Linked DNA regions of Homo sapiens. The protein of the gene in region 1 purifies or fractionates together with the protein of each later gene. This does not show direct contact. Each region holds a gene or a part of one and is shown in the gene's direction. Other genes may lie near its edges. The genes, in order: GPN1, RPRD2, KSR2, A2ML1, RPRD1A, NBEAL2 and WIF1.

The links.
Region 2: the proteins of GPN1 (region 1) and RPRD2 purify together in Homo sapiens (affinity purification with mass spectrometry, with the first as the bait; one large-scale study listed by BioGRID). This does not show direct contact.
Region 3: the proteins of GPN1 (region 1) and KSR2 purify together in Homo sapiens (co-immunoprecipitation; one large-scale study listed by IntAct). This does not show direct contact.
Region 4: the proteins of GPN1 (region 1) and A2ML1 purify together in Homo sapiens (affinity purification with mass spectrometry; one large-scale study listed by BioGRID and IntAct). This does not show direct contact.
Region 5: the proteins of GPN1 (region 1) and RPRD1A purify together in Homo sapiens (affinity purification with mass spectrometry; 2 studies listed by BioGRID and IntAct, with this or other methods). This does not show direct contact.
Region 6: the proteins of GPN1 (region 1) and NBEAL2 purify together in Homo sapiens (tandem affinity purification; one large-scale study listed by IntAct). This does not show direct contact.
Region 7: the proteins of GPN1 (region 1) and WIF1 purify together in Homo sapiens (co-immunoprecipitation; one large-scale study listed by IntAct). This does not show direct contact.

The regions. Positions count from the first base shown.
Region 1 is NC_000002.12:27,635,550-27,639,049, forward strand, and holds part of GPN1 (GPN-loop GTPase 1), read left to right. Parts: intron 1-2,660; coding exon 2,661-2,706; intron 2,707-3,335; coding exon 3,336-3,482; intron 3,483-3,500. UniProt on the Homo sapiens protein: Small GTPase required for proper nuclear import of RNA polymerase II (RNAPII). May act at an RNAP assembly step prior to nuclear import.
Region 2 is NC_000001.11:150,367,147-150,370,646, forward strand, and holds part of RPRD2 (regulation of nuclear pre-mRNA domain-containing protein 2), read left to right. Parts: intron 1-3,500.
Region 3 is NC_000012.12:117,962,491-117,965,990, reverse strand, and holds part of KSR2 (kinase suppressor of Ras 2), read left to right. Parts: intron 1-3,500. UniProt on the Homo sapiens protein: Location-regulated scaffold connecting MEK to RAF. Has very low protein kinase activity and can phosphorylate MAP2K1 at several Ser and Thr residues with very low efficiency (in vitro).
Region 4 is NC_000012.12:8,846,621-8,850,120, forward strand, and holds part of A2ML1 (alpha-2-macroglobulin-like protein 1 isoform 1 precursor), read left to right. Parts: intron 1-889; coding exon of another isoform or gene 890-928; coding exon 929-1,078; intron 1,079-2,099; coding exon 2,100-2,294; intron 2,295-3,048; coding exon 3,049-3,139; intron 3,140-3,500. UniProt on the Homo sapiens protein: Is able to inhibit all four classes of proteinases by a unique 'trapping' mechanism. This protein has a peptide stretch, called the 'bait region' which contains specific cleavage sites for different proteinases.
Region 5 is NC_000018.10:35,991,942-35,994,559, reverse strand, and holds part of RPRD1A (regulation of nuclear pre-mRNA domain-containing protein 1A), read left to right. Parts: intron 1-1,259; coding exon 1,260-1,409; 3' UTR 1,410-2,618. UniProt on the Homo sapiens protein: Interacts with phosphorylated C-terminal heptapeptide repeat domain (CTD) of the largest RNA polymerase II subunit POLR2A, and participates in dephosphorylation of the CTD by RPAP2.
Region 6 is NC_000003.12:47,003,666-47,006,933, forward strand, and holds part of NBEAL2 (neurobeachin-like protein 2), read left to right. Parts: intron 1-150; coding exon 151-311; intron 312-411; coding exon 412-728; intron 729-829; coding exon 830-925; intron 926-1,306; coding exon 1,307-1,431; intron 1,432-1,515; coding exon 1,516-1,656; intron 1,657-1,823; coding exon 1,824-1,954; intron 1,955-2,072; coding exon 2,073-2,182; intron 2,183-2,280; coding exon 2,281-2,398; intron 2,399-2,499; coding exon 2,500-2,597; intron 2,598-2,667; coding exon 2,668-2,784; intron 2,785-3,268. UniProt on the Homo sapiens protein: Probably involved in thrombopoiesis. Plays a role in the development or secretion of alpha-granules, that contain several growth factors important for platelet biogenesis.
Region 7 is NC_000012.12:65,065,806-65,069,305, reverse strand, and holds part of WIF1 (wnt inhibitory factor 1 precursor), read left to right. Parts: intron 1-401; coding exon 402-542; intron 543-1,515; coding exon 1,516-1,611; intron 1,612-2,569; coding exon 2,570-2,665; intron 2,666-3,500. UniProt on the Homo sapiens protein: Binds to WNT proteins and inhibits their activities. May be involved in mesoderm segmentation.

The DNA.
Region 1 (3,500 bases):
GCTGGGTCTGTCATCCCTACACTTGGGAGGCCAAGGTGGGAGGATCGTTTGAGCTTGGGAGTTTGAAACCAGGCTGGGGAACATAGCAAGACTCTGTCTCTACAAAAAATGTTTTAAAATTAGCCAGCGTGGTGGCACGCCCTTGTAGTCCCAGCTACTTGGGAGGCTGACGTGGGAGGATTGCTTGAGCTCAGGTGGTTGAGGCTGTAGTGAGCCATGATTGTGCCACTGCACTCCGGCTTGGGGCAACAAGAGCCTGGGGCAACGAGAGAGAGAGAGAAGAATAGAGTCCTCTGGCCTAAATGATGCTGGTAGAGTGAAATTGTAACATGAGGAGATACCATGAATAAGAAGATTTATCCATAATTGTAAAATGCACAGGTGGCCAGGCATGGTGGCTCATGCCTATAATCCCAGCACTTGGGGAGGCTGTGGTGGGAGGATCGCCTGAGCCCAGGAGTTTGAGACCAGCCTGGGCACCATGGTGAAACCCCATCTCTACAAAATATACAAAAAATTAGCCAGGGATGGTGGTGTGTGCCTGTAATCCCCGCTACCTGGGAGGCAGAGGTGGAAGGATTGCTTGAGCCTGGGAGGCCAAGGTTGGAGTGAGCTGTGATGATGTCACTGTACTCCAGGCTGGGCAACAGAGTGAGACCCTGTCTCAAAAAAATAAAATGCACTGGTTTGCCCCAAATGTGGCACCATTAGCAGAGGAAGGGCATGCCTCACTAGATTAGTGCATTAAGACTGAGGAGCAAGGCTGACAGTTATTAAAGCTGAGAGAATTTAATTTTGAGGGTACACAAATGCCATCACCAACATTTGTCTTTTCTGATATGACAAGGGATGTCCCTTTTTGGTGGATGCAAGAAATTGTGATCCAAATAGAAATCTGAAGATTGACAGCATTATTTCATTTTCATATTAATTATTTATTTATTTATTTATTTATATTTTTTCGAGACGGAGTCTTGCTCTGTCACCCAGGCTGGAGTACAGTGGCACAATCTCACCGTACTGCAATTTCCGCCTACTGGGTTCAGGTGATTCTCCTGCCTCAGCTTCCTGAGTAGTCACCACACTTGGCTAATTTTGTATTTTTAGTAGAGTCGGGGTTTCACCTTGTTGGCCAGGCTGGTCTCAAACTCCTGACCTCAAGTGATCTGCCCGCCTTGGCCTCCCAAAGTGCTGGGAATACAGGCATGAGCCACTGTGCCTGGCCCATTTTCATATTAATTGTTTAAAAGAAAATTATTTGATTTGCCTGATAGTGTTAATCATTTCTTTTTAAAAAAATTAATTAATTTATTTTTAGAGGTGGGGTCTCGCCATGCTGCCCAGGCTGGTTTTGAACTCGTGGGCTCAGGCAGTCCTCCCAGCGTGGCCTCCCAAAGTGCTCAGATTACAGGCATGAGTCACACCCCCAGCTGGTAATCATTTCATGATGAAACATACAGTTGATCCTTGAACAATTTGGGGGTTAGAGGCGCCAACCCCTGCAGAGACCAGCCGGGGCACCATGGTGAAACCCCATCTCTACAAAATATAAAACTTTGACTCCCCCCAAACTTAATTACTAAAGGCCTACTGTTGATTGGAAACCTTGCTGGTAACATAAACAGTAGATTAACACACATTACATATATATTATATGTATTATATGCTGTATTCATATAATAAAGCTAGAGAAAATAAGGGGAAGATATATTAACTGTTCATTAAGTGAAGTAGATCGTCATAAAACTCTTCATCCTAATCGTCTTCACTTTGAGTAGTCTAAGAGTAGGGGTTGGGTTTTGCTGTCTCTGGGTGGCAGAGGTGGAAGAAAAGGTGCATATGAGTAAACCTTGCAGTTCAAACCTATGTTGTTTAAGGGTCAACTGTGTATCAAAATATCCCTTTGTACACCTTAAATATATATAATTTTTATTTGTCAACTATACCTCAATAAAGGTAGGGGTAGAAACATTTTTAAGATGTTACTTTACAGATTGAAAAAAATTTTAATATTCTTTTCCCAGCCTTATTGAGGTATAATTGACAAATAAAAATTGTATATATTTACATGTTATTTGTAAAGAATAAAGGAGATAATACTTATGAAAGTGCTTATTAGCACAGTGCCTAGACTATACAGATTGAGCATCCCTTATCCAAAAATTTGAAATCTGAAATGCTCCAAAATGTGAGACATTCTAGACACTGACATGACACTCAGAGGAAATGGTTATTGGAGGATTTTGGATTTTCAGATTTGGGATGCTCAACCAATAAGTATTTACAAATATTCCAAAATCTGAAATAAAAAACACTTCTGGTCCCAAGTATTTTAGATAGGAAATTCTCAACCTGTAATAGGTATTCAGTAAATGTTCATTTCCTTCTCTGAAAAATACCAATTTGGTTAAAAAACAAAACAAAAACAAGTTCAATATTAAGGCATTATTACTTCAAACAAGAGTGAGAGTGTGTGTGTTGCTTCTGGGTGGTAGTTGTTTTCCTGTTGGCAGAGACTATATGATGTTATGTAAAAATGGATGACTACTTTTTAGATTCTGAACTCATTTCTGTTCTCTTACTTAGTCCCGACATGCTGACACTGGATGAGCAAGAGCTTATGTGCTTTTACTAATAACTTCTCAATGTTTGGTTTTCAGCATCTTATACAAAACCAAGCTGCCTTTCATTGTGGTCATGAATAAAGTAAGTGTATTCTTCCTGTTGTGATTCACCATTTTTCATCAGAACCTTGTGGTTAGAAGGTTTAGGTGGGTGAGAAAGATTATTTCAGATGCTGGAGACCAGATTCAGGCTTTACTGAAACAAATTCATAGGCACTTCGAGAAAATGAATCAATCAAATTGAATGAGCAATTATTACCAACTCTTGTCTAAAATTATTTTAGGCTAGGTAGAGTAGCACTTCAACCACAGTATGTAGATTATCCCTCAGAGTCAAGATTGTGTAATTACGAGAGGGACAACTAGTCTACTGGAAGTGGCAATTAAAAAATTCTAAACTTCTCTGTTGGTTGATGGCTAGGATGCAAGAGACCTTTTGACTTCAGAGCCTAGAATGTGCTGGTGTCCATTCTGGTCCTGGTACTTGGCAGTGGATAGTGGAGGGTCAACCAAGAGAATACACATCTTCATTTAATTACACTGACTACACAATGATTGTGGTTCTTTGTGGCTTGTTGCAATGGAGGGGAAATAGAAGCAGAGAAAGAAAATATATGGATGATATGTTCTTTGCTGTCAACACTTAATTAAAAGAATAAATTTTGCGTTTGTTGGCTCTGGTTGCTCATAATTGACTTCTCTCTGGTACAGACTGACATCATTGACCACAGCTTTGCAGTGGAATGGATGCAGGATTTTGAGGCTTTCCAAGATGCCTTGAATCAAGAGACTACATACGTCAGTAACCTGACTCGTTCAATGAGCCTGGTGTTAGATGAGTTTTACAGCTCACTCAGGGTAAATTTTCTCTCCTGC
Region 2 (3,500 bases), on another chromosome or scaffold:
TCTAGTGGAATGGAATTTAACTTTCTAAAATGATTAAGGGTAATTTTAGTCGTTTTGTATTTACATTTAATGAACTTCACTGGTCTCATTGTAAATAAAGCGTTTTGAGAGAAATATTCAGCAGAATGGTGTGGGGCGCAATGAAAACAGTTTATGCATGGGCCTTGTTTTCATTTAAGTTCTTATTTCTTTACAGTTATACTTAGTTTACTCTGAGTTTGGTTTCTAAGTCAGCTTTAGGAAAAATTGTGAAGCAGGTATCTTTGGACTCTGAGTTTGGTTTCTAAGTCAGCTTTAGGAAAAATTGTGAAGCAGGTATCTTTGGCATTCCCAGCCTTTCTGTCCATTTTCCTGATGCCACTTTGCTTCTCTTTTTTCTTCTGACATCCGTTATTTAGTAATTTATATTTATATTTAGACCTCAGTATAAATTTAAGTAACTATTAGATTCCAGAGATATTTTAATTTTATCCTTTATTTCAGTGTGTAATGAGACTTTTGTTCATATAAAAGGAAATAATTTAGAGAAATAGGCTATCTAAGGATATGTTCCAGAGATATTTTTATTTTATCCTTCTTTACTTTTTTTTTTTTGAGATGGAGTCTCGCTCTGTCGTCCAGACTGGAGTGCAGTGGCGCGATCTCAGCTCACTGCAACCTCCACCTCCAGGGTTCAAGCAATTCTCCTGCCTCAGCCTCCCAAGTAGCTGGGATTACAGGCACGCACCACCACGTCCAGCTAATTTTTGTATTTTTAGTAGAGACAGGGTTTTACCATGTTGGCCAGGGTGGTCTCGAACTCCTGACCTCAGACCATCATTTTCTAAGGTGATCTTTCTGTAGCATAAACAAATGTCATTCCTCTGCTTTAAAACCCTGCAGTGATATCCCATTGCAACAAGTTGAAGGTCTGAATTTCTTTTACATTGATCTGTAAGTCCTGTACCATCTGCTCTGCCTACCTCGGGCTTCTTCACATCCTGCCTCCTTCTCATTGTTTAGATCAAATCTCAACTATTACCTCCTCAGAAAGACCTACTTTGATCACCTTATTTCTTGTTTTTTTTTTTTTTTTTTTAATACGGAGTCTTAATAGATTTTTTTAAATTACATGTATCTGTTTTTTATTTATTTTAAATTAATTTAATTTAATTTAATTTTTTTGAGATGGAATTTCGCTTTGTCGTCCAGTCTGGAGTGCGGTGGCGTGATCTCAGCTCACTGCAACCTCTTCCTCCCAGGTCAAAGTGATTCTCTTGCCTCAGCCTCCTGAGTAGCTGGGATTACAGGCGTGCACCACTAAGCCCAGCTAATTTTTTTTTTTTTTTTTTTTTGAGACAGAGTTTCACTCTTTTCACCCATGCTGGAGTATAATGGCACGATCTCAGCTCACTGCAACCTCCGCCTCCCAGGTTCAAGTGATTCTCCTGCCTCAGCCTCCCAAGTAGCTGGAATTACAGGCATGCGCCACCATGCCTGGCTAATTTTTGTATTTTTAGTAGACGCAGGGTTTCACCATGTTGGCCAGGCTGGTCTTGAACTCTGGACCTCAGGTGATCCACCTGCCTCTCAGCCTCCCAAAGTGCTGGGATTACAGGTGTGAGCCGCCGCACCCGGTACCTGGCTAATTTTTGTATTTTTTGTAGAGACAGGGTTTCACCATGTTGGCCAGGCTGGTTTTGAACTCCTGATCTCAGGCGATCTACCCACCTCAGCCTCCCAAAGTGTTGGAATTACAGGCGTGAGCCACTGCACCCGGCTTCGCTTTATTTCAAGTAGTGCCTTCAATTGCTGTCACATCATCTTATTTTCAGTATATGATATTACCTTGTTTGTTACACGTTTATTGTCTGGCTTCCCTCCACCAGATGACAAGTTTGTCTTATTTGTTGCCCTGTCCCCAAACAACTAGGATAGTGCTGGCGTACAGTTAGCAATCAGTAAATGTTTGCCAACATAATGTGAAATAGCTAATCAAGAACTTAAGGAACAGAATTGCTTTAATTTCTGTTTATCAGAAGGAAGCATTTATAATTTAGTGAAAGAAATTACAGGTGCAGCAGTTGGAGGCATATGGACTTGATGTGCAATTTGCCCAGATTATCATTTCTGTACTTCGTTCTTCTTTCTCTCTTTTCTGTGGGGAGGTGGGGGAGGGACAGAGTCTGGCTCTGTTGCCCAGGCTGGAGTGCAGGGCATGATCTCCGCTCACTGCAACCTCCGCCTCCTGGGCTCAAGCAATCCTGCCACCTCAGCCTCCTGAGTAGCTGGAACCATGCCACCACACCTGGCTAATTTTTTTTTTTTTTTTTTTTTTTTTTTTTTTTTGAGACGGAGTCTTGCTCTGTCGCCCAGGCTGGAGTGCAGTGGCGCGATCTCGGCTCACTGCAAGCTCCGCCTCCCGGGTTCACGCCATTCTCCTGCCTCAGCCTCCCGAGCAGCTGGGACTACAGGCGCCCGTCACCGCGCCCAGCTAATTTTTTTTTTTTTTTTTTTGTATTTTTAGTAGAGACGGGGTTTCACCGTGGTCTGGATCTCCTGACCTCATGATCCGCCCGCCTCAGCCTCCCAAAGTGCTGGGATTACAGGCGTGAGCCACTGTGCCCGGCCTACACCTGGCTAATTTTTATGTTTTTGTTTTTGTTTTTTTTTGATGCAGAGTCTCACTCTGTCGCCTAGGCTGGAGTACAGTGGCGGAATCTCGGCTCACTGCAACCTCCATCTCCCGGGCTCAAGTGATTTTCATGCCTCCGCTTCCTGAGTAGCTGGGATTACAGGCACATGCCACCACGCCCAACTAATTTTTGTATTTTTTAGTAGAGATGGGGTTTCACCATGTTGGCCAGACTGGTCTCAAACTCCTGACTTCAAGTGATTCGCCCACCTCAGCCTCCCAAAGTGCTGGGATTACAGGCGTGAGCCACCACGCCCGGCCAAATTTTTATGTTTTTTGTAGAGACGAGGTATTGCCATGTTGCCCAGGCTGAACTCTTGGGCTCAAGCTATCTGCCTGCCTTGGTCTCCCAAAGTGGTAGGATTACAGGCGTGAACCACCAGGCCCAGACCTTCTTTCCCATTTTTAATGGTAAAATGGGAATCAATATGGAAAAATATAAAAGAGGCCTGTGTTAACATGTTAACTCCGGTCACTTAATACTGGATGACACTTTGCAAAGTACTTAAACTGTGAACCTCAGTTTTTCATCTATAAGTAGTTCTGTACCTGTAGATGAAAGTTCTACAATCTACAAGTAGAGATAATTCTGTCTGGAATTTACATTCCAGACACTGTCTACAGTGCTGGAAATTACATTCCCAGTTTGTGAGAGACGAATTGGACTAGCCTCTCTGTAGTAAATTAGCATATGCTTTGAAGAACTAGGAGGACAAAATGGAAAATATTGTGTTAATGACATCCATTTTGTCTTTTTTTTTTTTTTTTTTTTGAGACATATTCTTGTTCTGTCACCCAGGCTGGAGTGCAGTGGCATGATCTTGAC
Region 3 (3,500 bases), on another chromosome or scaffold:
GGGAATGCTCTTGAGCAATTATTCCAATTTGTATTTCCCAGATTTGCAGGGTTAGGGAGGGCCCCTGCAGAGGGGCTGGTAACTTAGGGTCCAGCCAAGTCCAGCCAACGCTAACATTTGGGTCCACGGAATTTTCTAATTTTGTATATCAAAACCATATGAGGGTGCTTGTTAAAATGCAGATTCTTAGCCTCTAACCCTAGAGATTCTAGTTTAGCTGGGATTAGCAAGAGGGTCAAGGAATCTGCGTTTAATAAACAGTCCAGGTATTTCTGATACATGTTTTCAAATGGACACTTTGAGATGCTAAACCATTAGGAGAAAGATGTGATATTTCAGCTCTTTAATGGTGAAAACTCACTGCTTGCTAACACTAATGCAAGTAATAAATTGAATAGATGATCCCTGAACAGTGCTGTGATAATGAACAGCACTTAATAGCATGTATACACTTCTGTAGAAACAAAAATATGCAAGGTGGACTTGGCCTTCAGGAAGCATACTTCATGATATAATAATGTGTATGTGAAATAATGATAAAGTCTAAGTGGTAAATAATATGGGGGACAATGTGTGAGCCCATTAGGCATGTGTTCAGCTGCATGAAATGGAAAACCCAATCCTAGCAGTAAGGCAAATAATGGTTTCTCTTCATGTAACAAGAATTCTGGAGACATATAGCTGCTTCAGTTGGCTCAGTAGGTTAGTAATACCAGGGCTGATGTCTTTGGGAATTCTCATGGCTTTTCTCTTATGGTTGCAAGATGGTTCCTGCAGCTTCAGCGATTACATCTGAGTTCAAGGTAGGAAAGAGGAGGACCTGGTGAGTGTGAAGGAATAAAGGGTTCCCCAGGACATCTCTTCCTCCTCACCTTGCAGATGATTTGATTATATCTTCTTGGCCAGAACTGAGTCCTAGCTGCAAGGGAGCCCGGGAAGTGGGGAAGTGGGACCACCACCAGGATCGGCTTAGATGGATCATGATCCATTGCCTGAAATGACATGTTGCCACTCCATGCAAAATCAGGGCTCTGCTAGTGTGGAAGGAGGCATAGGTAGATATTAAGTAAGTGGACAGCCAGCGATGGCAGCCATGGCACATAGTCAGAAGATATTTTGGTGGAAAAGAAAGTTCATGAACGTTGAGTCAGACTGATATAGTTGTAAATTCTAGCTTGTCTTTTTACTTTATCTTGGGCTAGTGATTTAAGTTTTCTGATTTATAGTTTTAAGTTTTTGGCAAAACAGCAATAATTAAATAATATTCCCTACTTCAGAGGATGGTTATAAGGATTGAAAGAGATAACGTTTTCAAGGGTCTAGCACTATCTGGAACAGAGTGGCTGCAGGTGCTAAATGAATGACAGCTGTGATGATGATAATGATTGGCATTACATGGTGTTGACTAGATGGCATGGAAGGGAGCAGTTCAGATTGGACAGAGAGAAGGAGGAGCTTGAGTAGCATTTCCAAAGTATGTTCTGTAGAACCCTAAATCTGTGGGATGTTAGCGTTTTTAATTCTTTCAACAAATGCTGACATCCAGGCACTGTACTTAATGCTGGTAGTCAATAAGTGTTCTGTGGACAAAACAAATTCTGTGGTTAATAAGTTTGGGAAGGGTTGAGTTAAGCAAAGGGAAACAGGCATCTTTACTGCAGGACTTTTCTCAGAGCCTTTAATATGCTACCTATGTGTATTAGGCCTCCAAGAGAGGATAGAACGGAGTCTCGCTCTTGTCACCCAGGCTGGAGTGCAGTGGCGCAATCTCAGCTCACTCTGCCTCCTGGGTTCCAGTGATTCTCTTGCCTCAGCCTCCCAAATAGCTGGGATTACAGATGCCCGCCACCATGCCCTGGTAATTTTTGTGTTTTTAGTAGAGACGAGCTTTTGCCATGATGGCCAGTCTGGTCTTGAACTCCTGACCTCAGATGATCTGCCCGCCTCGGCCTCCCAAAGTGCAGGCGTGAGCCACTGCACCCGGCCCAAGGATTTCTCCTGGGATTTTTGTTCCATAGGATACACCTGGGAAAACATTTGGCAAAGCAGGGAAACCTTCTTGGTTGGGGAGATGGGGATTTGGAGTGAAGGATGAGGAGGGTTTAGATTGCAGCAAAAGGGGAGAGCATGCTGGACAAGAACAACAAACCAGATGAAGGTATTTGAATGCCTTCATGGGGCAGCCTAGAGACCATTTTGCCCAGAATGGAGGGTACCTGGTAGCCTGTCATAGGAAATGAATTTAGGCCACTAACTTCTGGGATCCAACTAAAGATTAGAGAGTCAGACCAACAACGTTTCATCCCTTTGTGGAAGGAGATAGAAGTCTTCAAAGGTTTTGGAATGCATACAATAGAAAAGTATAAGCTTTTTTGTTTTGTTTTTTTTGAGGCAGGGTCTCACTCTGTAACTCAGGCTGGAGTGCAGTGGCACGATCATGGCTTACTGCAGCCTTGACCTCCAGGGCTCAAGAGATCCTCCTGCCTCAGCCTCTTGAGTAGCTGGGACTACAGGTATGCACCACCACGCTTGGCTAATTTTTTGTATTTTTTAAATAGAGACAAGGTATTGCTATGTTGCTCCAGCTGATCTTGAACTCCTGGGCTCAAGTGATTCGCCTGCCTTGGATGGCAGCCTACGGCAGGGGCTGGCAAACTTTTTCTGGAAAGGGACAGATAGTAAAGAGTTTAGGCTTTGTGGACCCTGCAATTTTTATCAAAGCTACTCGACTCTGTGCTGTAGCATGTAGCAGCCATGGGCAGTACATACATGAATGGGTGGGGCAGTTTTCTTTTTATTTTGAGACAGGGTCTCGCTCCGTTGCTCAGGCTGGAGTGCAGTGGCGTGATCTCGGCTCATTGCAACCTCCGCTTCCCAGTTTCAAGTGATTCTCCTGTCTCGGCCTCCTGAGTAGCTGGGATTACAAGCCTGCACCATCACGCCTGGCTAATTTTTGTATTTTTAGTAGAGACAGGGTTTCAGACCAGCCTATTGGCCAGGCTGGTCTCAAACTCCCGACCTCCAGTGATCCGCCCACCTCAGCCTCCCAAAGTGCTGGGATTATAGGCGTGAGCCATCAAGCCGGGCCTGGTGGGGCAGTTTTCTAATAAAACTTTATTTGTGGACCCTGAAACTTGAAATTGATATACTTTTTGCATGTCATGAATATTTTTCTTTTGATTTTTTTTTTGATGTTTATAGTTGTACAAACTGTAGTTTCTGGGCCTTACAAAAACAGGTGATGGTGGCCAGGCACAGTGGCTCACGCCTGTAATCCCAGCACTTTGGGAGGCTGAGGTGAGTGGATCACTTGAGGTCAGGAGTTTGAGACCAGCCTGGCCAACATGGCGAAACCCCGTCTCTACTAAAAATACAAAAATTAGTGGGGCATGGCAGCGGGTACCTGTAATCCCAACTACTCGGGAGGCTAAGGCAGGAGAATCACTTGAACCTGGGAGGTGGAGGTTGCAGTGAACCAAGATGGCACCATTGCACTCCAG
Region 4 (3,500 bases), on another chromosome or scaffold:
ACCAGCCTGGTGAAACCGTGTCTCTACTAAAAATACAAAAATTAGCCAAGCATGGTGGTGGATGCCTGCAATCCCAGCTACTTGGGAGGCTGAGGCAGGAGAATTGCATGAACCCAGGAGACGGAGGTTGCAGTGAGCAAAGAACACACCATTACACTCCAGCCTGAGTGACAGAGTGAGACTCTGTCTCAAAAAAAAAAAAAAAAATTAGTTGAGTGTGGTGATGCATACCTGTAGTCCCAGCTAGTCGGAAGGCTGAAGCAGGTGTATCGCTTGAGCCCAGGAGTTCAAGGCTGCAGAGCGAGACCCTGTCTATTTTTTTTATTTTTTATAGACAGAGCTTTCCTCTTGTTGCCCAGGCTGGAGTGCAATGGTGCGATCTCGGCTCACTGCAACCTCTGCCTCCTGGGTTCAAGTGATTCTCTTGCCTCAGACTCCCGAGTAGCTGGGATTACAAGTATGCACCACCATGCCTGGCTTTTTTTTTTTTTTTTTTTTTTGTATTTTTAGTAGAGACGGGGTTTCACCATGTTAGCCAGGCTGGTCTTGAACTCCTGACCTCAGGTCATCCACCTGCCTTGGCCTCCCAATGTGCTGGGATTACAGGCATGACCCTGTCTCTATTAAAAAAAAAAAAAAAAAAAGCCATACTGGGAAGCCACATGTTCTATATAGTTATTCCACATGTTCTCTCTACTTTTTGTCTTCTAAACTTTCTCTATCCTTCTACTGTGCTGCTCACGTTTCCCAACTCTATCACGGCATACACGTCCTGAAGAGCTAGACTTTACAAAGAAAGATAAGTACAAAAGTGAAAGAATGGGTTGGATGTCATAGCTGGGGCATATTTGCTGATGACCCAAATTATGTTGTTTCCCTTCCTTTCCAGGCTGACCTGATCCCCAAGTTATACCTTTCCCTTCCCCAGGTTTCCCTTGGCTTCTCCCCCTCCCAGCAGCTTCCAGGAGCAGAAGTGGAGCTGCAGCTGCAGGCAGCTCCCGGATCCCTGTGTGCGCTCCGGGCGGTGGATGAGAGTGTCTTACTGCTTAGGCCAGACAGAGAGCTGAGCAACCGCTCTGTGAGTAACTGTCTGCTGACAGAGTGGGAGGAGGGAGTTGATGGAGAAGACAATTAAGAGGTAGGTTTCAGGCAGGGGAGAGAAAGTCTTAGGGAAATAATGCACTGCCATAAGGCGGTAAAAAGGCTGGTGTGAAAATGAAGTTAGAAAGTGTAAGAGGGCTGGGCACGGTGGCTCACGCCTGTAATCCCAGTGCTTTGTGAGGCCGAGGCTGGCAGATCACCTGAGGTCGGGAGTTCGAGACCAGCCTGACCAACATGGAGAAACTCTGTCTCTACTAAAAATCCAGAAAAAAAAAAAAAAAATTAACTGGGCATGGGCCCATGCCTGTAATCCTGGGGAGGCTGAGGCAGGAGAATCACTTGAACCTGGGAGGCGGAGGTTGTATCATTGCCCTCCAGCCTGGGCAACAAGAGCAAAACTCTGTCTCAAAAACAAAAAAAAAAAAACAAAAACAAAAAAAGAAAGGATAAGAGAAAGGCATGGTTAGTATGAATGCAGAGACAAGAAAAGAGAATGAGCCTGTAATCCCAGAACTTTAGGAGACCAAGGCAGGCAGATCACCTGAGGTCTGGGGTTCAAGACCAGCCTGACCAACATGGTGAAACCCTGTCTCTACTAAAAATACAAAAATTAGCCAGGCATGGTGGCGCATGCCTGTAATCCCAACTACTCAGGAGGCTGAGGCAGGAGAATTGCGTGAACCCGGGAGGCAGAGGTTGCAGTGAGCCGAGATCGTCCCACTGCACTTCAATCTGGGCGACAGAGCAAGACTCCGTCTCAAAAAAAAAACAAGAAAGAGAACGAAATAGGGGATAGGATTATGAAAAAATAGGTGAGATAGAGGTTAAAGTTTTAGACAGTGAGAAAGGTAATTATGACAGAATGAATATAAAAATAATTCTGAAGTAATAAAGAGAAATGATACAGGAGTAGTGAACTGAGCACCAGAATCTGAGAGAAGTTTCTCAACTGATATCACTATATCAATGCTTTATTTCCTCTCCCCCTCTTGTCCCAGGTCTATGGGATGTTTCCATTCTGGTATGGTCACTACCCCTATCAAGTGGCTGAGTATGATCAGTGTCCAGTGTCTGGCCCATGGGACTTTCCTCAGCCCCTCATTGACCCAATGCCCCAAGGGCATTCGAGCCAGCGTTCCATTATCTGGAGGCCCTCGTTCTCTGAAGGCACGGACCTTTTCAGCTTTTTCCGGGTAGGTCTTCTTACCCATTTTGTTCTTATGGGAAAGATGGTGGTGGGAATGGGCAAAGGAAAGTTCATATCTAAGAAAGCAGAGAGACTCATATGGGCACTGATGGGAACAAAATCTTGAAAGAAGCTTCTGACGTGTAAGGTCGCCTCTGTTGGCCCTTATGCTTGAAGAAGATGTCCAACCTAGTCTTCCTCTTTTTGTTGTCCTCAAACACTGATTTCCATGAGATCAATCAGGAGGGAAAATTAGAGAAGGTAGACCAGAGGTCTCTTATCATTATTATAAAAAATAATTTGCACCTATTCTATGAGCAGGATTTGGGATGCTGTGTGACCCAAGTCTGACCAGGAGGTCCCTGAGGTCAGGAACTAGGTCTTGTTCATCTTTGTATTCTCTCTAATGCCTGACCCTTCATAAGGCTCATTGTATTTTTGTTGAATTGAGTACGCTGATATGGTCCCTACCCTCAGCATGTTTACAGCGTAAGTCAAATAGTAAGGACATAGCGAATAATATTTGGCAGAACCATTACATGTATGTAATGATGAAATAAGTTTAACTGAAAGCCTTTCATGCTAGCTGGAACAGAAGCCAACCAGCCTCAGTGGCTGAGTTTCAGGTAAGAACACCCAGGTTCACCATTAATTCAAAAAGAATGTTTTGTTTCAACTCTTTGATGGTGGAATTCCTGGGCAGTAGCCCTTGTAGTTGGGGAAGGGACCACCTTAATACTTATTTCTCTGATGCCTATCAGGACGTGGGCCTGAAAATACTGTCCAATGCCAAAATCAAGAAGCCAGTAGATTGCAGTCACAGATCTCCAGAATACAGCACTGCTATGGGTGGTAAGCCACCTCTGTGGTCTGTGGATTCTCTGAGATGTTAACAGTCCTGGAACTCTGCAGATTTCCTCTTGCCTCCTGTTCTTGCACTGAGCCTCTAGCCCGAGAATGCTAATGGGTTGTGGGTCACAGATGCAGGACAGTTTCCCAAGTGTTCTCTCTCTGGGGAGAGCTTTTGAAGCCTGAAGCTTATGTATCCATTCCCCGGCCAAACCTCCTTGGCTATCACTTCCCTCGATGGCCTTTGTGACTAGTTAGTTCCTCTTTGGTCCTTCCTCCTTGCCTCTGACTGGATGTTCTCTGCTTCCCTCTAAATTTCTTTCTAGTAATCCCTCCATCCCAATTTATGTCACAACAAGAAGTC
Region 5 (2,618 bases), on another chromosome or scaffold:
TAACAGCTCCGATATCCACCTGCTTATGAAGCCTGAACCCTCATTATTCCTCACAGCAGAACCACAACCAATTCCTGCTGATTTTTCTTTCTAAACATTTAGTCTTTGACATTAAGGTATTATTTACATATAATGTAGTTTTTAAAGGACATTGCTCTATCCTTACTACTGTTGGTTTGGTTCGGTTCAGGCCCTAGTCCTTTCTTTCCTGGAGAGTTGCAGTAAACTCCTAGCTGGGTTTCTTCCTTAGATGTTTCCTCATCTATGCACTCTCTAGGATGGTCCTCTCAGGACTTACCTGTGACCACATTTGGAAAGAGCGTGAATCTCCCTGCCTTGTGCCATGCACTGTGGTAATAGTGAATTGCCATGGACATATCTATTTTACTGCCTGCTACTTCCTTAGACCAAATCTTTGAGTCAGGACCCTGGAACTGAGATGGGTATAGTGGGAAGCTTTTCTCTGAGTGATACCCTGTTGTGGGTGCTGAGCTTTTGGAGAAAGGGAGGGGTGCAGCAGCCTGAGGTTGTCTTGGCTTGCCTCTTCTGCTGTGGAGCCACCTTCCTCATGAGTTGGGGGTGAGGCTTATCAGGGCCCAAGTATTCTCAGTCCTCCACGCATAAGAAGGAACTTCTTTTCCAGGAGTGGGGGCTGGACAGGAGGGAGTCCCCAGGCTCTTCCCTGCTCTATCTCAGGACTTAGCTTCAGCACCAGGTAGTTGGGGTAGGATGAGAGGCGCTCTTTCTGGGAATAAAACCCTCCCACTGGGAGTTGCAGGGAGAGTGATCCTGTATTCTTGGCTGCAGCAGTCTGGAGTGGACCCTCCTTGCTTAGATGGGAGGGCACAGGAAGGGAGCAGTCCTGCTTCAGACACCACAGACTCTGGCCATTCCTACTGAGTTTTCATAGATGTTCTTGCCAAATTTTAGTTAAGGTTTATGAAAATAAATATGTAATTTTTCTTGCCCAAACTCAAGAATACCTGAACATCTTATATGTCGAGGTTAAGCACATTAATGTTAGTCTTCTTTCTACTGGTGTGAAGCAACAGCTAAAGATTGTGGTTTTTCTTAATAATAATAGTTTACTAGTTATATATTTCCAAAGCTCATCTTTTGATGTGAAAACTCACACTGGAATAACCTTTTTAAATATGGCATTAACTGAGTATATATAGTACCTGGGTTTATGTAGGTCATTATTAGCTAGGAAGTTTTTTCAATCCCTGAATGCTAATGAAAGTGGTTTGATGTTACAGGAGTACAAGCGCAAGCTAGCCAGAGTTTCCCTGGTGCGCAAAGAACTCAGGTCCCGGATCCAGAGCCTGCCAGACTTATCTCGATTGCCCAATGTCACTGGCAGCCACATGCACCTGCCCTTTGCGGGAGACATCTACAGTGAAGATTGATGGACCAGCCTCTTTCCAGGTCCCAGGACTTTGCAAGAGATGGAGACAGGTTAGGTGGATAGTCCTGTAGTGTTATTTTTGTATATTGTTGAGAAAGAAACACTAACAAAAGGAACAACGAGTAATTTATAAAATTGTTTAAAATGTTGGTTTGTTTACTATTTTATTGGTAAATTAACATGACTTAATTTGAACAAAGTGATGATTTGTGTGTATTAATAAGCTCACAAATAGTGATTATTTTCAAAAGATCTTTTTGTAAATTTTTTTTTTGATCCAAGGCCTTGTGAGAAATCTCTTGTTTGTATTTCTTCAGGTATTTTCAATTGTTTTTCTTTATTTTCTTCAGCATTTAATCACTGTATACTATGTAATTCCTGAAGGGGAAGAACTAATTAGGAGTTGATTGAGACTTTATTATGGTATAGTTAGGACTTGATTGTAGAAGGGACTAAATGTTCCAACATAATCTTTACCCTTCTCCCCAAACAAAATATCAATTCTGTGTCTCTACATGCCTTTGATTCCTTAGAGGTCGGTAATTTAACATAAAACAGGGATGTCACTTTGAGGGGCAGATGAAAGTCTAGAGAACTGTTCCTTAATAGCATTGTAAAAGTTCCATTCCAACTGCCAGTGTAGATTTTAAAAGTGTTAAATAGTGACTCCCTTGATTAAACTGTTTGTAATTATTTGAGTAGATTAATAATGAAAATACTTTGGAAATAATATACATTTTGACATTCTACCAAGAGGACAACTTTGGTTCTGGAACTGGTTTCTATTTGTCAAATCAGTTTCCTTTTAACATAATTAATCCCTTTAACAAAAAGCCGTCTATGGGATTAAAAGACACGTGAAATGATACTTTTATTATTCCCTTGCTCATATAACTTTAAAAATAATACTTTTAGCTCTAATAGCTCAAGAACACAATATTCGTTAATGTTCAGTAAAGTAGCCTGAGACATTTTCAATGTTTCCTTAAGGTTTTTGAATGACTGTATATTTGGCAGTTAAGCAGTGCCACACTACAGGGTAGATATGGTAAATTTTATATTTGTATATTTACAGTTACAAAACAAATGTACTTTTACCTTTTATTTCTGACCCTGTGTGTTAGAGCAGTTGCATGCTCTCCTGCTGTTAAAAACACATTGTTAAGCTGTGGATTTGTACTCAATAATGACTTAGGATAAACATTTATTT
Region 6 (3,268 bases), on another chromosome or scaffold:
CAGTAGGTTCTGGACCCTAGGCAGCCCCTCCCCATCTCTGGGAGTCATGAGAGTATATACCCCATGACTCAATGGCACTTGGATGCCCTTTGGGCTTGTGAAGAAGGGGGTCCCAGAGCCTACAGCGTGAGGTGGGTTGCTGGTCTTTAGGATGGAGGCAGCAGAACTGGATGAGCAGCGTGAGAAGCTGGTGCTGTCGGCCGAGTGCCAGCTGGTGACGGTAGTGGCCGTGGTCCCAGGGCTGCTGGAGGTCACCACACAGAATGTATACTTCTACGATGGCAGCACTGAGCGCGTGGAAACCGAGGAGGGTGCGTCCTGGTGGTGTGGTTTAGGAGGATGGCAGGGAATGGCTGAGCTCTGGGTGGGGCTGGGGTGAGTGACTCCCGTACCTGCTGTTCCTCCCCATAGGCATCGGCTATGATTTCCGGCGCCCACTGGCCCAGCTGCGTGAGGTCCACCTGCGGCGTTTCAACCTGCGCCGTTCAGCACTTGAGCTCTTCTTTATCGATCAGGCCAACTACTTCCTCAACTTCCCATGCAAGGTGGGCACGACCCCAGTCTCATCTCCTAGCCAGACTCCCAGACCCCAGCCTGGCCCCATCCCACCCCATACCCAGGTACGGAACCAGGTGTACTCGTGGCTCCTGCGCCTACGGCCCCCCTCTCAAGGCTACCTAAGCAGCCGCTCCCCCCAGGAGATGCTGCGTGCCTCAGGCCTTACCCAGGTGAGAGCCCTGGGTGTGAGGGATGTGAAGTCGGGACCCTGAATCACGGGGCAGTGCTGGACAGCCCACCTGGCTCACATCTTGTCTGCCCCTGTCCCCAGAAATGGGTACAGCGTGAGATATCCAACTTCGAGTACTTGATGCAACTCAACACCATTGCGGGGCGGACCTACAATGACCTGTCTCAGTACCCTGTGGTGAGGGTCCCACTCTGCACCCCTCCACCCCTGCCCCTCTGACCTGTCAGCCCTTGGTTCCCCCAAGTGTAGGTACCTGCCAGTGGGCCAAGCTCTGAGCTTGGTCAAGGGTAGATGTGCCAATGAAGACCTGGCCTCTGTTCCCTGCCAACCCCCAGAGGTCCCCAGCCTCACTCCCTTCCCCTCCCTGCCTAGCCTCTATTCCTCAAAAGGAATCCTGTTCCAGGACACTCTGTCCTTCTCCCCTGTGACCCCTCTAAGTGGTGCTCCCCCAACCTGTGGGCAGGCTCTGTGCCCGCCTTCTTGAGGGTGTGGGCAGGGCAGGGTGGGCTGGTAGGCCATCAGGGCCCTCATGCAGCCCCTGCTCGGGTGGGTGGCCAGTTCCCCTGGGTCCTGCAGGACTACGTGTCCCCAACCCTGGACCTCAGCAACCCAGCCGTCTTCCGGGACCTGTCTAAGCCCATCGGTGTGGTGAACCCCAAGCATGCCCAGCTCGTGAGGGAGAAGTGAGCATGTGGGCAGGGCTGGGCTCAGCGGGTAGGGAAAGGCGAGGGGAGGGCTTCTGCTGACACGTCCAACTGTGGCCCCAGGTATGAAAGCTTTGAGGACCCAGCAGGGACCATTGACAAGTTCCACTATGGCACCCACTACTCCAATGCAGCAGGCGTGATGCACTACCTCATCCGCGTGGAGCCCTTCACCTCCCTGCACGTCCAGCTGCAAAGTGGCCGGTGCGGCCCAGGGGCTGGTGGGCAGACTAGGGGGCAGATAAGGGGAGGAGGCTGGTCCTCCCCACATCCTGGGCCCACCCCTGGCTCCCTTCTTCCCTCCAGCCACAGCATCTCCCTCCCTGTCTCCATTCTCCCCACCTCACCTTGGCCCCGTGCCCCTCCCCCAGCTTTGACTGCTCCGACCGGCAGTTCCACTCGGTGGCGGCAGCCTGGCAGGCACGCCTGGAGAGCCCTGCCGATGTGAAGGAGCTCATCCCGGAATTCTTCTACTTTCCTGACTTCCTGGAGAACCAGAACGGTAGGTGTGAGGTGCTCACACTGGAGCGGGCAGGTGTAGGGATGGAGAGCAGATGGTGGAGTGGCCAGGGGGCAGTCGGGATGGACAGGGAGACAGCTGACCCAGTCCTCTGTGCCAGGTTTTGACCTGGGCTGTCTCCAGCTGACCAACGAGAAGGTAGGCGATGTGGTGCTACCCCCGTGGGCCAGCTCTCCTGAGGACTTCATCCAGCAGCACCGCCAGGCTCTGGTGAGGAAGGAACCACAGGCAAACGGCAGGCAGCCGGGGTTCTGAAGATCATGGGGGGTCAGCTGTCCCTGCACTGATTGCTGCCTCCCTACTCTCAGGAGTCGGAGTATGTGTCTGCACACCTACACGAGTGGATCGACCTCATCTTTGGCTACAAGCAGCGGGGGCCAGCCGCCGAGGAGGCCCTCAATGTCTTCTATTACTGCACCTATGAGGGTGGGCAGTGCGCTGGACTCCAGTCAGGGCCAGGACAAGATCAGGTCGGGTGGATGCAGAGGGCACGCAGGGAGCCCTGACTGCTCTGCCTGCCTTCCCAGGGGCTGTAGACCTGGACCATGTGACAGATGAGCGGGAACGGAAGGCTCTGGAGGGCATTATCAGCAACTTTGGGCAGACTCCCTGTCAGCTGCTGAAGGTAAGGCCAGCTTAGAGGATAGTGGCCAGGGATGCCCATGCCATGGTGCTGACCAGCCACTTACCCACAGGAGCCACATCCAACTCGGCTCTCAGCTGAGGAAGCAGCCCATCGCCTTGCACGCCTGGACACTAACTCACCTAGCATCTTCCAGCACCTGGACGAACTCAAGGCATTCTTCGCAGAGGTGAAAGGAAGACAAGACCTCAACTTTATATTCTGTGAAATGGGTTTAACCCCACTGTCCTTACCAACCACGTGGGGCAGATGGGAATCCTAATCAAGGTCACTGATTTCAAGGCACCTTAGAAAATGAGCTAAACATGGGAAGAGTATGGGGGCAGGAGGGGTGCCTTCTTCATCAGGGCCAGGATAAAGTGTCGACTCAACAAGCTCTGAAAGCCTTAGGGAGATCAGGAGGGAGATCTGTCCTTGGACCCCTTCCATCGCCTTCCTAGACAGGAACATTCCTGAATGTTGCCCCCAGGCCTGACTTTTTTTTTAGGTTTCCCTCTCTTCCTGCCTTTGGGCTAGGGGGACAAGGAATAACAGGGTGAGAGGACCAAGTTGAAACTAAGTGTGATACTCTGGAAGCATCTTCCATGTCTGTCCCAGCTTCTCACCCACTTTCTGAGATGCCCTCCTAAAGTCTCTGCCTGTTTCTTGGAGGG
Region 7 (3,500 bases), on another chromosome or scaffold:
CGAATCAACTGCTTTTTATTTATTTTCGTTTGTCTTTCTGTTCTTCCCATGCTACACTGACGTATACATAATTAACCACTTTATGATTCTTCTTTCCATCTTTAATTTCCAGGGAAAATATTTAAGATAGTACAAGTCCAGACTGTGAACAGAATATCACCAATTCCATATTAATGAGGTAAAAATTGGAGTCATTCACTCTTTCTTCACCTGACATGATGCTCAACTTCTGTGGAGCCCAGATGCTCAAAATACAGTTCCTACTCCAGTGGAGATACAAGGAAATCCACAACATGTGAACATTTTTGCTTTGTCCTTTGACTCTTGGTTCCCAAGATTTCTGTAAAACTAGAATCAACTAGATTAACTATTTCTCCACACTTTCTCTTTTTTTCTTTTAGTTGTTCAAGTTGGTTTCCCATGTCTTGGAAAACAGGATGGGGTGGCAGCATTTGAAGTGGATGTGATTGTTATGAATTCTGAAGGCAACACCATTCTCCAAACACCTCAAAATGCTATCTTCTTTAAAACATGTCAACAAGGTAAGCACCGATGGTGATTCAAGAGAAGACATGTTGTAAGGGCTTAGGTGTGATTTGGACCAAATATTTATATCTATACACACACACACACACACACACACACACACACACACATGGTTTTTTGGATGATGGCTCTATAACTACAGCAACGGAAGGAGGAGATGATCAGCACAGGATTTAGCAACAGTACTAAGATAGACTTCCTCTGACCTTGACCCCACTTTTAATATTAGGAATAGGAAACGTTTCAAAACACCTTTTCTTCCTCCCTCTCCACTCCTCCAACACAGTTGTTGGGAGTCCCAGTGTATCTCACCCGTGGTCATGAATTTCCCCCTTTCTTGCTCTGTTTGCTCAAGGCAAGGTGGCTCATAATTACCAGCACTTCCCACTTGTCCCAAAGGCAACACTAATATAACCTCTAATGAATATCCACGGAGGACAGACTGCCACCTCATGCCAGTGATCCCTACCAGGTCAAGGCCTCACTCAATACCTCCCCACCACACCCCAGATGCCCATTTAACTATAAAGGCCTGGCTCCTTTCACATCCCTATACAAGCTTTTCTAGCTCAGAATTTAAGCTCTGGAGCATTTCAGTGCTCTAAAGATGTACCCATAAGTCATCTTACCCTCTGAAAGGGGAAAGGCAATACCATTCATTCAATTGCAGTGGGAATTTAACAAGGTACAGTAGATCCATAGGAGGAGATGAAGGCAGAATAAAATTTGCCTTACCTTCTTCCAAGAGCCCCCTACTGTTGGAAATAAGGGAGGCAAAATCTTACTCTGCAGCAGATTTAGTGAAATCCAAGTGATATCGAGGGAATGAGTTGGAAGTACTGGTATTTGATCAATTATGATTAATTGGTGGGCTAGAACAGAAATGAACACTACTGTCTCACACTGGCTGTGATTCACCCAACATGATTTCAAGGGTGTCCATATAAGCTTTGTTTCTCTCTGCTGAAGCTGAGTGCCCAGGCGGGTGCCGAAATGGAGGCTTTTGTAATGAAAGACGCATCTGCGAGTGTCCTGATGGGTTCCACGGACCTCACTGTGAGAAAGGTAAGACATGGAGCCGATTTCCCTTGCTCCCTTCCTAATGAACATGGATGTCGTGCAGGAGCCCCATGTGTATTGTGTATTTTTAACACCTGAAATTATTTTCCTGGTCACAGGGGCAGAAAATTTTGGCACAATGCCATCACTTTCTGTGGCCATTCCTGGCCATCTCCCCCAACTCATCCCGCTTCAGAAATATAGCCACTGTACTTTGGCATAATCTTATGAAAATTTTGAGGTTTTTTTCCTCCTCTTAAGTTGGATTTAAAAAGCTAGTATCACCACTGATCTGAAATTGTTCCAGTTGAAAGTAGCTTGATTCACAACTAAGAGTATATCTAAGTTATGAAGTTATGATAAGGCAAAAAAGTGGATGAATTTGTGTAGTAAGTACATCAATTTCAGGGAAATTAATTTTTAAAAATAAATGAAAAAAGACATAAGCAAGGAAATGAATATTAATCATAAGATGTTTAAATACTAAGAGCTTATCTGACTACAGTAAGCAAAATATTTTTCATCTTCAAGAAATAAGAATATCCTGTGAGAGACAGTTAAAAAATAATTTTAAAATAAGTAAGAAAGAATAATATTTTCTTATTTTTCTTCTTTGCATTTATGTTGGAATTAGAAGATTAAGCAAATGGGGCAAAGTGAAAATATTTAACAGTTTTAAGAAGACCACATCTTAGTCAAAATGATTCTGGGGAAAATTTATTCAAGTATTCAAATGGAACCAATCCAAAAGTCATCTCTAAGAAATTGGCTGAGAAATTGAAAAACAGCCTAATTTATACCACAAAAATAATATTAATATAGCAAACTTGTATCTCTGAAGAGTAATCATTTTAGAGTCAACCACAAAGCTTGAAAATGTAGACCTGTTGTATTATTGACATTTCAAAATGGTCCTGCTCCAAAATACCATTTGGCCTTAATCAGGGTTCTCTCTCCCTATAAGCCCTTTGTACCCCACGATGTATGAATGGTGGACTTTGTGTGACTCCTGGTTTCTGCATCTGCCCACCTGGATTCTATGGAGTGAACTGTGACAAAGGTAACAGTTTCTTTTTAAGAAGAAAGTTATTTTTACTTTTAAAATGTTTGATTAGAATAAGTTACTTTATATGTCCTCACTCTTCATAACAGCTCTGAGAATGTATGGCTTAGGGTAAAGATGGCTGCTATAGTAACTGAAATCCCAATTTTAGTGTAGCATAATAGCAAAAGTTTATTTTCATTCACAGAATGCTCCAGTGCATTTTGCCTGGTCAGTGGGCAGGGCAGCTCTTCTCCATGCAGTGACTCAGGAGCCCAGGCACCATCTATCTGTGGTCCTGCCTAGAGCTTTGGAACTCTCTAGATCCAGCCAATAGGCAGAGAAGGATTGAAGTAAGCACTGCTAAAAATAAATTAATTAATTAAAAAATTTAAAAGCCCTGGCCCAGAATTTACCCACAAAACTTCCACACCTATTCCATAGGTAGGAATTAGCCTCATGGTCCTACCTGGTTTCAGGCAGAAGAAATGTTGCCCCTGGCTGGACAGTGGTCTCCCACTGACATCTCATATTACATAACGGGAGTGCAAATTTTTGTGAACAATTAGCTGGTCTTGCCACATGGAATTTTAGTATGTCCTAAATTGGTTTTGTGGGTGAGCTTCTAAGGCTAAAATTAAACAACCTGCTCTACATTGCCTAACCTAGAAGTTTACTGACTCCCGATTCAATACTCTGCTCACAAATCACATCCCAGAGAGATTAGGTTCTTCCTTCTTAACATTGCAGCAACACAGCCAGATTTTACTCTTAGTAAGTGAATTCAAACTTGGCCCTAAAATTGCTGAACGATTCATACTCTTTACAAGAGACTTGTTTATTTTGCCCAGTT